Regions from separate parts of the Homo sapiens genome. Here region 2 is linked to region 1. The links come from fine-mapping of genetic effects on plasma protein levels. A gene starts in region 1. The other region holds a variant in brackets. All regions are shown on one strand. Distances are from middle to middle.

Region 1 (5,382 bases):
GGAAAATATTATGCCCTAAAGAGGGAGGTTAACTGTCCTCCTTGCCCTTACCACTATAAACCAGACAGAAATTTAAAATATGGAAACAGTGTTTTTTATTCTGTGTCAGGGTTTTAAACTTGGTCAACCTCCCGGAACTGTATGCCTATTTTATACTTTAATCGGTTTATGTACATGTTCATTTTTCTGGAAAGGATCTATATTTTTATTAGGTCCTTAGAGAAGTCAGAGATCCCAAAAAAGTGCCCTGGGCTTTGTATCCTGCTTTACTTCTCCTTGTAAGTGATCAAATCCACAAGGCTGATTGTGTTCTTTCTCTAAATCACTTTGTGTTATGACTTCAGGATGCATCTTGAACTTTGTTTTCAAGTGAACTTTGTAAACAAGTCCTCAGCTTAAAAGACATTTTGAACTATATTAATAATAAATGCATCATAAAATTTCCTGTTTGATAAAGGAGGCATCTGAGATAATTATGCAATGCACTTAGCTACTCACATTTTAGTTATTCTTATTAATATCATTGATATTTATTATTTTTCAATGCTTCTCTGAAAGACCTGAGTATGGCCACTCTGGCTTTAAGAACTGTGTCCACAGTGCTAGCTGAGAAACCACTACCACATATTTTTTTAAACTCCAAACTTTACTAAGAATCAGGCTTGGATATAGGGCCTAAAAATCATTCAATTGGAATGTGAAGAAGTTGAAACACCATTACGCAAAAACCCTTTAGCATATGTGTATGTGTGTCTCCCTAATGTCAGGATGTACACATTTATTACAGTGGTTTGGAGGTTTATTTGTAATCTGACCTTTTGAAATTCTGGAGCACACAAAAAAAGTAGATCTTCATTAACAAGGATTTTTTTTTCTTTTTCTTTTCTCTTTTCTTGCCAGAAATTTAAAGATGTTTCTTCCTTCACTTCCTTCCTTCCTTGTACTGTCCTTGCTCAACGTGAATCTACAATCACTGCCACTTGAATGGATGCAACTTATGTTAATAAATTGCCAGGATCAGAACTCCCACTGCAGCATTTCCTTCTCCATAGAACCACTGAACCAGAAATGCATTCTAGTGATTTTTTTTTGTCGTTAACGATGATTAATTAAACAAACTCGAGATTTCACGAGAAAAAACATAGATGCCCAGATTTAACAAACTCCTTATCTTTTTTCGACTTAAACCCACGAAGCTTTGGGGAGCACTCTAGCCCCTGCTACTCACCCATGCAAGCGGGGTGCGCGCTCGCGCACACACTCACTCACTCCAAGATAGGGGCTTTCTAGGAAAATACTTTGAGCTGCCAATCCAAGATTTTACTTAAAGAATTGACTTGGTTCTCAAGTGACAGATCTCTAAGTGCCAGAGCGGCAAAGTGCACCAGGCTGATAAAGTGCATGCCAAGACTCTCAGGTGGGAATTCTTGTCACAGCCAAGAGGTTGCTGGCATAGGCACCCGAGGCTGGCAGAGCCTAGCCTCTGAGTCTCCCTACACTCCTGGGCTTGCTTTCCTTTTTGAAGCTGCCTGCAGCTCAAAGAGGAGTTTGAACCAAGGGCACTTGCTTCGCGATCCTCCTGGCAGAGCCACAGCTCAAGTTTCCCCCACGGAATCACGAGCTTTTGTAAAGGGCAGCGAGGAGGCAGCGAGGTGGCAGCGAGGTACAGTCGCAGAGTTCTCTGGAGAACGAACACCCCCGCCGCGCCCCACCCCCCAGGACTGGTGGAGACTGGAAGGAACGAGTCCAGACCACGGGACCTTCCCTGGCCGTGGGCCGACGCCTAGCTGTCCTTGACCTCCCCAGCAGTCGGAGGCGCGCGCGGGAGAAATGAAAGTAAAACCTGTCCTGGCGCGGAACCAAGTGGAAGCTGGCGACAAGTAGGTCGCATCCTCAGAGCGACTGATAGCCAGTCCTGGATCTGCGCGAAGAGCTTGACTCGCAGAGGATAAAGTGAAAGGAAAAGGAAATGGGAGACAAGGGAGAAGAACAATAGTTAGGCTGGGGAGGCTCCTGGTCACCGAGCAGGCGTTCAGTAATAGCTGCTGTCTGCGGTGCAGACGGACTAGTCGCCCGGCCAGGCCACTTCGGTGACTGCCCTGCGCCCAGCCGGGCGGCCGGATCCAGACCAGTGCGCCGCGCTGCACTCCTCTAACCCTCCGCGTCCCAACCCCTTACCAGGGCCAGGGTCAGGGCCCGGAATCTGTCCTCCGTCCTCAGATGGAATTCAGGTCCGCTCAGGTGACTCCTTCCAGGAAGAGTCCTTAAATAACTTCCGCGCGGCCATTTCTTCCCCAGGTGCAATGTCCACTGTTGAGTCCCGAGAGTGAAAAGGCAGCTAAGCCAGCAGTGCGCGGCCCAGACAGACCACTCTGGGCAAGGTCCGCGCGACCCACTGCCCAGCCGCCTTTGCACCGGAGCTCAGAGCCATATGGCAGAGTAGGAAGGAAGCTTAAAGGTCTGCTGGGGACCGGCTCTAAGATGGGGACTCGAGAGATGGGACATGACTCGCCCACCTTCACACAGCGAATTGCCGGGAGGTGAGGACTAGAAGCCTGTTTGGCTAGTGGTCTCGCACCTTTGGCCTCTCCGTCGAGTCGCTGGGCTTCAGGACATTCGATTAGAGGAGTGGTTAGTAGGACCCCAGAAACCCACAAGCACGAAGCAGGAAGCCCCGTGGCTTAGCCTTTCCTTCCCAGTTTGGCCCCCAGGAGAGAAGTAAGAAAGAGAAGAAGCTGTGATGAAAGAGCACAAACGGGTGACAAACGTGTCTAGCGTGATTCATCATGAACAGGCACAAATTCTTTGGGCGGGGGCTAGGACTCTCCTTTGCCCCTTGAGAAGTTGGTGACCCCAGCCTAGAGGAATCCACGCCGCGCCCCAGTCGGCCGTGCTAGCGTGTCGGGCCGAGTAGGGACTCTGCTGCTTCCTACCTGCAGGGTGACTTCCCCTCTCTGCAGATACCTCCCCTCTCTGAGCTTGAATTTTCTACCTGCTGAAATGGGAAAAGGAATGTTACCTTCCTTGCCTGACTCAAGGGTGGCTGTGAAGCTCAAAGTAGACTGGGATGTGGCCGTGCTTGGTAAACTGTAAAATGATTAGCATACGTGAAGCGTTAGTGTGCTCCCTGGCAGTCAGTCCTCACGTTTACGATGGATTAATGAAGGCAGCCAGGCACAATCTCAGGTTATGACCTTATAAGGCATAATAGGATTACAAGGAGGCAAAATGAAACAGTATATTTCCTCCTAATTTTGGTTATTCCTATGTTTCCAAATAGAAATGAAAATTCTGAAATTTCAGATAATTCCCCCCTCCAAATCCCAATTCTCAATTTAGCTTTTCTGAGCCTTGTCCCTACCGTGAAATCTTACTAGCTCACCCCGAAACGCCGGGGTCTTGGTCCTCTGGGGGACTAGTGAGTCCTGCTCCTCTCGGCTTTGCTCCGTCCCTGCCCCGGCCCCTCCGCGGGAGTCTGGGGTCGCGGCCCGGTCAGGCGCCAAGCCGGCAGGGGGGCGCGGTCCACTTGAGGCCACAGCTCCCCAGGTCCAGGGCTCGGGCCATCCGCGCTGTCCCTTCCGCGGGCTCTTGCTGTTCTTCGCCAGGAGGCTTTGCACTCCGGGCCGCATGGGTCCTGGATAAGGACCTCAAGAGGTTGTAGTGGCGCCCCTTCGCTCCGGCGTACTGTCTGAACCCTGTGCCCAAAGAGGGCTGTGGCAGTTCCTGCACCAACCGCCTGGAGCCCATACCTAAGCCCTCTGGGCACGAGGGACCTCCTCTCCCCCGCTCCCCCCTCCCCCCATCCCAACTCCAGCCCCAAAGGAAGCAATGCGCGCGTCCGAGAGCAGGAGCGCGCGTGGCTGAGGAAAGAAAGGGAAGGCAACCGGGCAGCCCAGGCCCCGCCCCGCCGCTCCCCCACCCGTGCGCTTATAAAGCACAGGAACCAGAGCTGGCCACTCAGTGGTTTCTTGGTGACACTGGATAGAACAGCTCAAGCCTTGCCACTTCGGGCTTCTCACTGCAGCTGGGCTTGGACTTCGGAGTTTTGCCATTGCCAGTGGGACGTCTGAGACTTTCTCCTTCAAGTACTTGGCAGATCACTCTCTTAGCAGGTAGGTGCCGCAGACCCTGCGGGTTAAGAGGTGGGGTGGGGGGCAGTGCTTGCCAAGGCCCTAAACTGGGAGCGCTGGGTGAGGGGAACAACCCACTTTGGAGGGTTCTCTGAGAGATAGATACACCCCATATCCTGGGCCCAGCTCGTGCACACAGCTGGAGGTCCAGAGACCCAGTCCCCTCTGCTCCGTCAGCCAAGTTCCAAGAAGTTGAGCAGAGACCCTCTGGGAGCCTGGCGGGGTGCAGCGGCCTCCCCTGCGGGGCCTGTCACCCGGCCGGCGCGTGCAAACGCCTCTGGCGCCTCTCTGCGCGGAGGGAGATAAGCGTCTGAGCCAGGGAAAGCGCGGGCTAAACCCGCCTCGCCGGGGCCCCTGCCCGCCCTCCGTGCCCCGCCCGGGCGGTGCAGCTGGCCCGGGTGCTCACGCTCGACTCTCTTTCTTCTTTTCCAGGGTCTGCGCTTCGCAGCCGGGATGAAGCTGGTTTCCGTCGCCCTGATGTACCTGGGTTCGCTCGCCTTCCTAGGCGCTGACACCGCTCGGTTGGATGTCGCGTCGGAGTTTCGAAAGAAGTGAGTCCGGGCAGCGCCTTCCCCCTTGCTGGTACCTGGCAGGCAAGGGGAACTGACCGTTGGTCCCGAAGGTCTAGAAGTGAATGGGAGCAGGGACAGGCCTGGGCGTCACCTGAACGCACGCGAATCGGGTCTGCTTGTGTTTTCCAGGTGGAATAAGTGGGCTCTGAGTCGTGGGAAGAGGGAACTGCGGATGTCCAGCAGCTACCCCACCGGGCTCGCTGACGTGAAGGCCGGGCCTGCCCAGACCCTTATTCGGCCCCAGGACATGAAGGGTGCCTCTCGAAGCCCCGAAGACAGGTAACTACGCCCTGTGCTGTCCAGGGACGGGAGGGAAGGAAGGTGTGCGGGAGGAGTTCTCTGTCTCCACTCCCCTGGCCCGGGGGATCGTCGGGGCTGGACCGCAGCTCAGATGGCGCGAGCAGTTTCCAGCTCCCTCTGGCTCTAGAATGGCTCCCGTTCCCGGTGTTGGGGCCAAAGCTCTGCTTGATGGGGTCTCAAGTTGCCTTTCTTCCCCCTCCCCCCGCCCGCAGCAGTCCGGATGCCGCCCGCATCCGAGTCAAGCGCTACCGCCAGAGCATGAACAACTTCCAGGGCCTCCGGAGCTTTGGCTGCCGCTTCGGGACGTGCACGGTGCAGAAGCTGGCACACCAGATCTACCAGTTCACAGATAAGGACAAGGACAACGTCGCCCCCAGGAG
Region 2 (5,382 bases), 41 kb after region 1:
ATGGGTAAATGTGCCAATTAAAAGACACAGACAGGCAAATTGGATAAAGAGTCAAGACCCATCAGTGTGCTCTATTCAGGAGACCTATCTCACGTGCAGAGACACACATAGGCTCAAAATAAAGGGATGGAGGAAGATCTACCAAGCAAATGAAAAGCAAAAAATAAAAAATAAAAAAATAAAAAAATAAAAAAGCAGGGGTTGCAATCCTAGTCTCTGATGAAACAGACTTCAAACCAACAAAGATCAAAAGAGACAAAGAAGGCCATTACATAATGGAAAAAGGATCAATTCAACAAAAAGAGTTAACTGTCCTAAATATAGATGCACCCAATACAGGAGCACCCAGATTCATAAAGCAAGTCCTTAGAGACCTACAAAGAGACTTAGACTCCCACACAATAATAATGGGAGACTTTAACACCCAACTGTCAACATTAGACAGATCAACAAGACAGAAAGTTAACAAGGATATCCAGGACTTGAACTCAGCTCTGCACCAAGTGGACCTAATAGACATCCACAGAACTCTCCACTCTAAATCAACAGAATATACATTCTTCTCAGCATTACATCACACTTATTCTAAAATTGACCACATAGTTGAAGGTAAAGCACTGCTCACCAAATGTAAAAGAACAGAAATGACAACAAACTGTCTTTCAGACCACAGCGCAATCAAATTAGAACTCAGGATTAAGAAAGTCACTCAAAACCACATGACTACATGGAAACTGAGCAACCTGCTCCTGAATGACTACTGGGTACATAACGAAATGAAGGCAGAAATAAAGATGTTCTTTGAAACCAATGAGAACAAAGACACAATGTGCCAGAATCTCTGGGACACATTTAAAGCAGTGTGTAGAGGGAAACTTATAGCACTAAATGCCCACAAGAGAAGGCAGGAAAGATCTAAAATTGACACCCTAACATCACAATTAAATGAACTAGAGAAGCAAGGCAAACAAATTCAAAAGCTAGCAGAAGGCAAGAAATAACTAAGATCAGAGCAGAACTGAAGGAGATAGAGACACAAAATCCCTTCAAAAAATCAATGAATCCAGGAGCTGGTTTTTTGAAAAGATCAACAAAATAGACTGCTAGCAAGACTAGTTAAGAAAAGAGAGAAGAATAAAACAGACACAATAAAAAATGACAAAGGGGATATCGCCACCAATCCCACAGAAATACAAACTACCATCAGAGAATGCTATAAACACCTCTATGCAAATAAACTAGAAAATCTAGAAGAAATGGATAAATTCCTCGACACGTACACCCTCCCAAGACTAAACCAGGAAGAAGCTGAATCTCTGAATAGACCAATAACAGGCTCTGAAATTGAGGCAATAATTAATAGCTTACCAACCAGAAAAAGTCCAGGACCAGAAGGATTCACAGCCAAATTCTACCAGACGTACAAAGAAAAGCTGGTACCATTCCTTCTGAAACTACTTCAATCAATAGAAAAAGAGGGAATCCTCCCTAACTTATTTTATGAGGCCAGCATCATCCTGATTACCAAAGCCTGGCAGAGACACAATAAAAAAAGAGAATTTTTGACAAACATCCCTGATGAACGTCAATGTGAAAATCCTCAATAAAATACTGGCAAACTGAATCCAGCAGCACGTCAAAAAGCTTATCCACCATGATCAAGTCGGCTTCACACCTGGGATGCAAGGCTGGTTCAACATGTGCAAATCAATAAACATAATCCATCACATAAACGAACCAACCTCAAAAACCACATGATTATCTCAATAGATGCAGAAAAGGCCTTTGACAAAATTCAACAGCCCTTCATGCTAAAAACTCTCAATAAACTAGGTATTGATGGAACGTATCTCAAAATAATAAGAGCTATTTATGACAAACCCACAGGCAATATCACACTGAATGGGCAAAAACTGGAAGCGTTCCCTTTGAAAACCGGCACGAGACAAGGATGCCCTCTCTCACCACTCCTACTCAACATAGTGTTGGAGTTCTGGCCAGGGCAATCAGGCAATAGAAGGAAATAAAAGGTATTCAATCAGGAAAAGAGGAAGTCAAATTGTCCCTGTTTGTAGATGACATGATTGTTTATTTAGAAAACCCCATCATCTCAGCACAAAATCTCCTTAAGCTGATAAACAACTGGAGCAGTCTCAGGATACAAAACCATTGTGCAAAAATCACAAGCATTCTTTACACCAATAACAGACAAACAGAGAGCCAAATCATGAGTGAACTCCCATTCGCAATTGCTACAAAGAGAATAGAATAGCTAGGAATCCAACTTAGAAGGGATGTGAAGGACTTCTTCAAGGAGAACTACAAACCACTGCTGAATGAAATAAAAGAAGACACAAACAAATGGAAGAATATTCCATGCGTATGGGTAGGAAGAATCAATATCATGAAAATGGCCATGCTGCCCAAGGTAATTTATAGATTCAATGCCATTCCCATCAAGCTACCAATGACTTTCTTCACAGAATTGGAAAAAAACTACTTTAAAGTTCATATGGAACCAAAAAAGAGCCCACATAGCCAAGAGAATCCTAAGGAAAAAGAACAAAACTGGAGGCATCACGCTACCTGACTTCAAATTATACTATCATGCTGCAGTAACCAAAACAGCATGGTACTGGTACCAACACATAGAAATATATATATATATATCTGTGTTGTTATATATATATGTGTATATATA[C/T]GTATATATACATATGTGTATATATATGTATATATACATATGTGTATATATATGTATATATACATATGTGTATATATGTATATATACATATGTGTATATATATGTGTGTATATATATGTGTGTATATATGTATATATATATGTGTGTATATATGTATGTATGTATGCATGTATACACCAGTGGAACAGAACAGAGGCCTCAGAAATAACACCACACATCTACAACCAACTGATGTTTGACAAACCTGACAAAAGCAAGAAATGGGGAAAGGATTCCCTATTTAATATATGGTGCTGGGAATATATATATATGTATGTATGTATGTATGTATATATGTATGTATACACCAATGGAACAGAACAGAGGCCTCAGAAATAACACCACACATCTACAACCAACTGATGTTTGACAAACCTGACAAAAGCAAGAAATGAGGGAAGGATTCCCTATTTAATATATGGTGCTGGGAAAACTGGCTAGCCATATGTAGAAAGCTGAAACTGGATCCCTTCCTTACACCTTATACAAAAATTAACTCAGATGGATTAAATACTTAAATGTAACACCTAAAACCATACAAGCCCTAGAAGAAAACCTAGGCAATACCATTTAGGACATAGGCATGGGCAAAGACTTCATGACTAAAACACCAAAAGCAATGGCAACAAAAGCCAAAATAGACAAAAGAGATCTAATTAAACTAAAGAGCTTCTGCATAGCAAAAGAAACTACCATGAGAGTAAACAGTCAAGCTATAGAATGGGAGAAAAATTTTGCAATCTACCCATCTGACAAAGGGCTAATATCCAGAATCTACAAAGAACTTAAACAAATTTACAAGAAAAAAACAAACAACCCCATCAAAAAGTGGGCACAGGATATGAACTTCTCAAAAGAAGACATTTATGCAGCCAAAAGACATGAAAAAAATGCTCATCCTTACTGGTCATCAGAGAAATCCAAATCAAAACCACAATGAGATACCATCTCATGCCAGTTAGAATGGTGATCATTAAAAAGTCAGGAAACAACAGATGCTGGAGAGGATGTGGAGAAATAGAAACACTTTTACACTGTTGGTGGGAGGGTAAATTAGTTCAACCATTGTGGAAGACAGTGTGGTGATTCCTCAGGGATCCAGAACTAGAAATACCATTTGACCCAGCCATCCCATTACTGGGTATATACCCAAAGGATTATAAATCATGCTACTATAATGACACATGCACATGTAGGTTTATTGCAGCACTATTCACAATAGCAAAGACTTGGAACCAACCCAAATGTCCATCAATGATAGACTGGATTAAGAAAATGTGGCACATATACATCATGGAATACTATGCAGCCATAAAAAAGGATGAGTTCATGTCCTTTGCAGGGACATGGATGAAGTTGGAAACCATTCTCAGCAAATTATCACAAGGACAGAAAACCAAATACCGCATGTTCTCATTCATAGGTGGGAATTGAACAATGAGAACACATGAACACAGGGTGGGGAGCATCACACACCCGGGCCTGTCAGGGGTCGGGGGCTAGAGGAGGGATAGCATTAGGAGAAATACGTAATGTAGATGATGGGTTGATGGGTGCAGCAAACCAACATAGCACATGTATACCTATGTAACAAACCTGTGTGTTGTGCACATGTACCCTAGAACTTAAAGTATAATAAAAAATAAAATAAAAAAATAAAATCAGGAACATAGTATCAACCAAAAAGAATTAGTTACTTCAGAGGATTGAAATTAAAAGAAAATTATGAAAATGTTAAAAAAAAAAAAAAAAAGGCAAAGACTTGTGAGGAGGAGTGTTTTTGCCCTTCTCCCTCTCCCTGTCTGGAGCTTTGATCCAATGCGGTAGCAGCAGCCATTTATTTACCAAGACAATGAAAGCTGAGAGCTAAGTATGGTGGAGCAGAAAGATGGAAAGATCCTGATTCCTTGATGACAACCTTTAGCAACTATGCTGGTTTTGGTCCACCCACTTCTGGATTTTGTGTTATGTTTAAAAAAAGCCTTTACTTTTTGTTTTGTTTTTTGATTCAGGGTCTTGCTCTGTCACCCAGGTGGGAGTGCAGTAGTGCAATCACCGCTCATTGCAGCCTCAACTTCCTGGGCTCAAGTGATCCTCCCACCTCAGCCTCCTGAGTAGCTGGGGCTACAGGTGCATGTCACCACACCTGGCTAAGCCTTTACTTTTTTGAACTAGTTAGTAAAGTGGCCCTCAAACTTAGCTACCCATTAAAATCACCTGTGGAGTCTTAAAGTTCCCAGTTTTAAGATCTCCCTATACACCCCCAAATGAATAGGAATTTTTGGTGGTAGGATCTAAGCCTCAATAATTGGAAGCAGGATTTCATTCTGTCTCCCAGGCCAGAGGGCAGTGGCACAACCATAGCCCATTACAGCCTTGAACTCCTGGTCTCAAACGATTCTGCTGCCTTAGCCTCCCAAAGTGCTGGGATTACAGGTGTGAACCACTGCACCCAGCCCTAGCTTCAATAATTTAAAAAACTCTCCAGCAGATTCCAATGTGTAGCCCAGATTAAGAACCAGTGGTTTAAACCACCTGTTTTGGTTTTTAATATTTTTTGTTATTCCCAGCTGGATACATTTGTAATTAATACATGTTTTGAAGCTATATTCAAAAAATTGAAGCACGTAAGTTCTCCCATT

Direction of the effects. Alleles are on the strand shown, and positions count from the first base shown. The strength of an association depends on the size of the effect and on how common the allele is.
As copies of T replace C in region 2, the plasma level of the protein whose gene starts at base 3,956 in region 1 goes up (moderate association).

What was found. A credible set is the group of variants that fine-mapping cannot tell apart. PIP is the chance, under the fine-mapping model, that this variant and not a neighbour inherited with it causes the effect. Protein levels are from antibody-based Olink assays in UK Biobank. Linkage for the fine-mapping came from a reference panel and not from the study's own genotypes, which makes the PIPs less certain.
Region 2: its variant is the best candidate, but not a certain one, in a credible set for the plasma level of the ADM protein (UK Biobank, PIP 0.50).

What each region holds. Positions count from the first base shown.
Region 1 is chr11:10,301,118-10,306,499 of GRCh38, forward strand. It overlaps ADM (adrenomedullin), which reads left to right and starts at 3,956. Exons shown (of 4, transcript NM_001124.3): 1 at 3,956-4,112; 2 at 4,563-4,681; 3 at 4,832-4,981; 4 at 5,215-5,382. The coding sequence starts at 4,584. It also overlaps a transcript of SBF2 not described here. RefSeq lists enhancers at 1,664-1,743, 1,764-1,943 and silencers at 2,868-2,927, 3,418-3,517, 3,698-3,747, 4,428-4,477, 4,498-4,547.
Region 2 is chr11:10,341,781-10,347,162 of GRCh38, forward strand. The region is part of intron 2 of CAND1.11 (a long non-coding RNA gene); the gene reads left to right. Among named protein-coding and RNA genes, the nearest start is that of CAND1.11, 36 kb to the left of the region's middle. The variant C/T (reference allele first, on the strand shown) is at 2,702.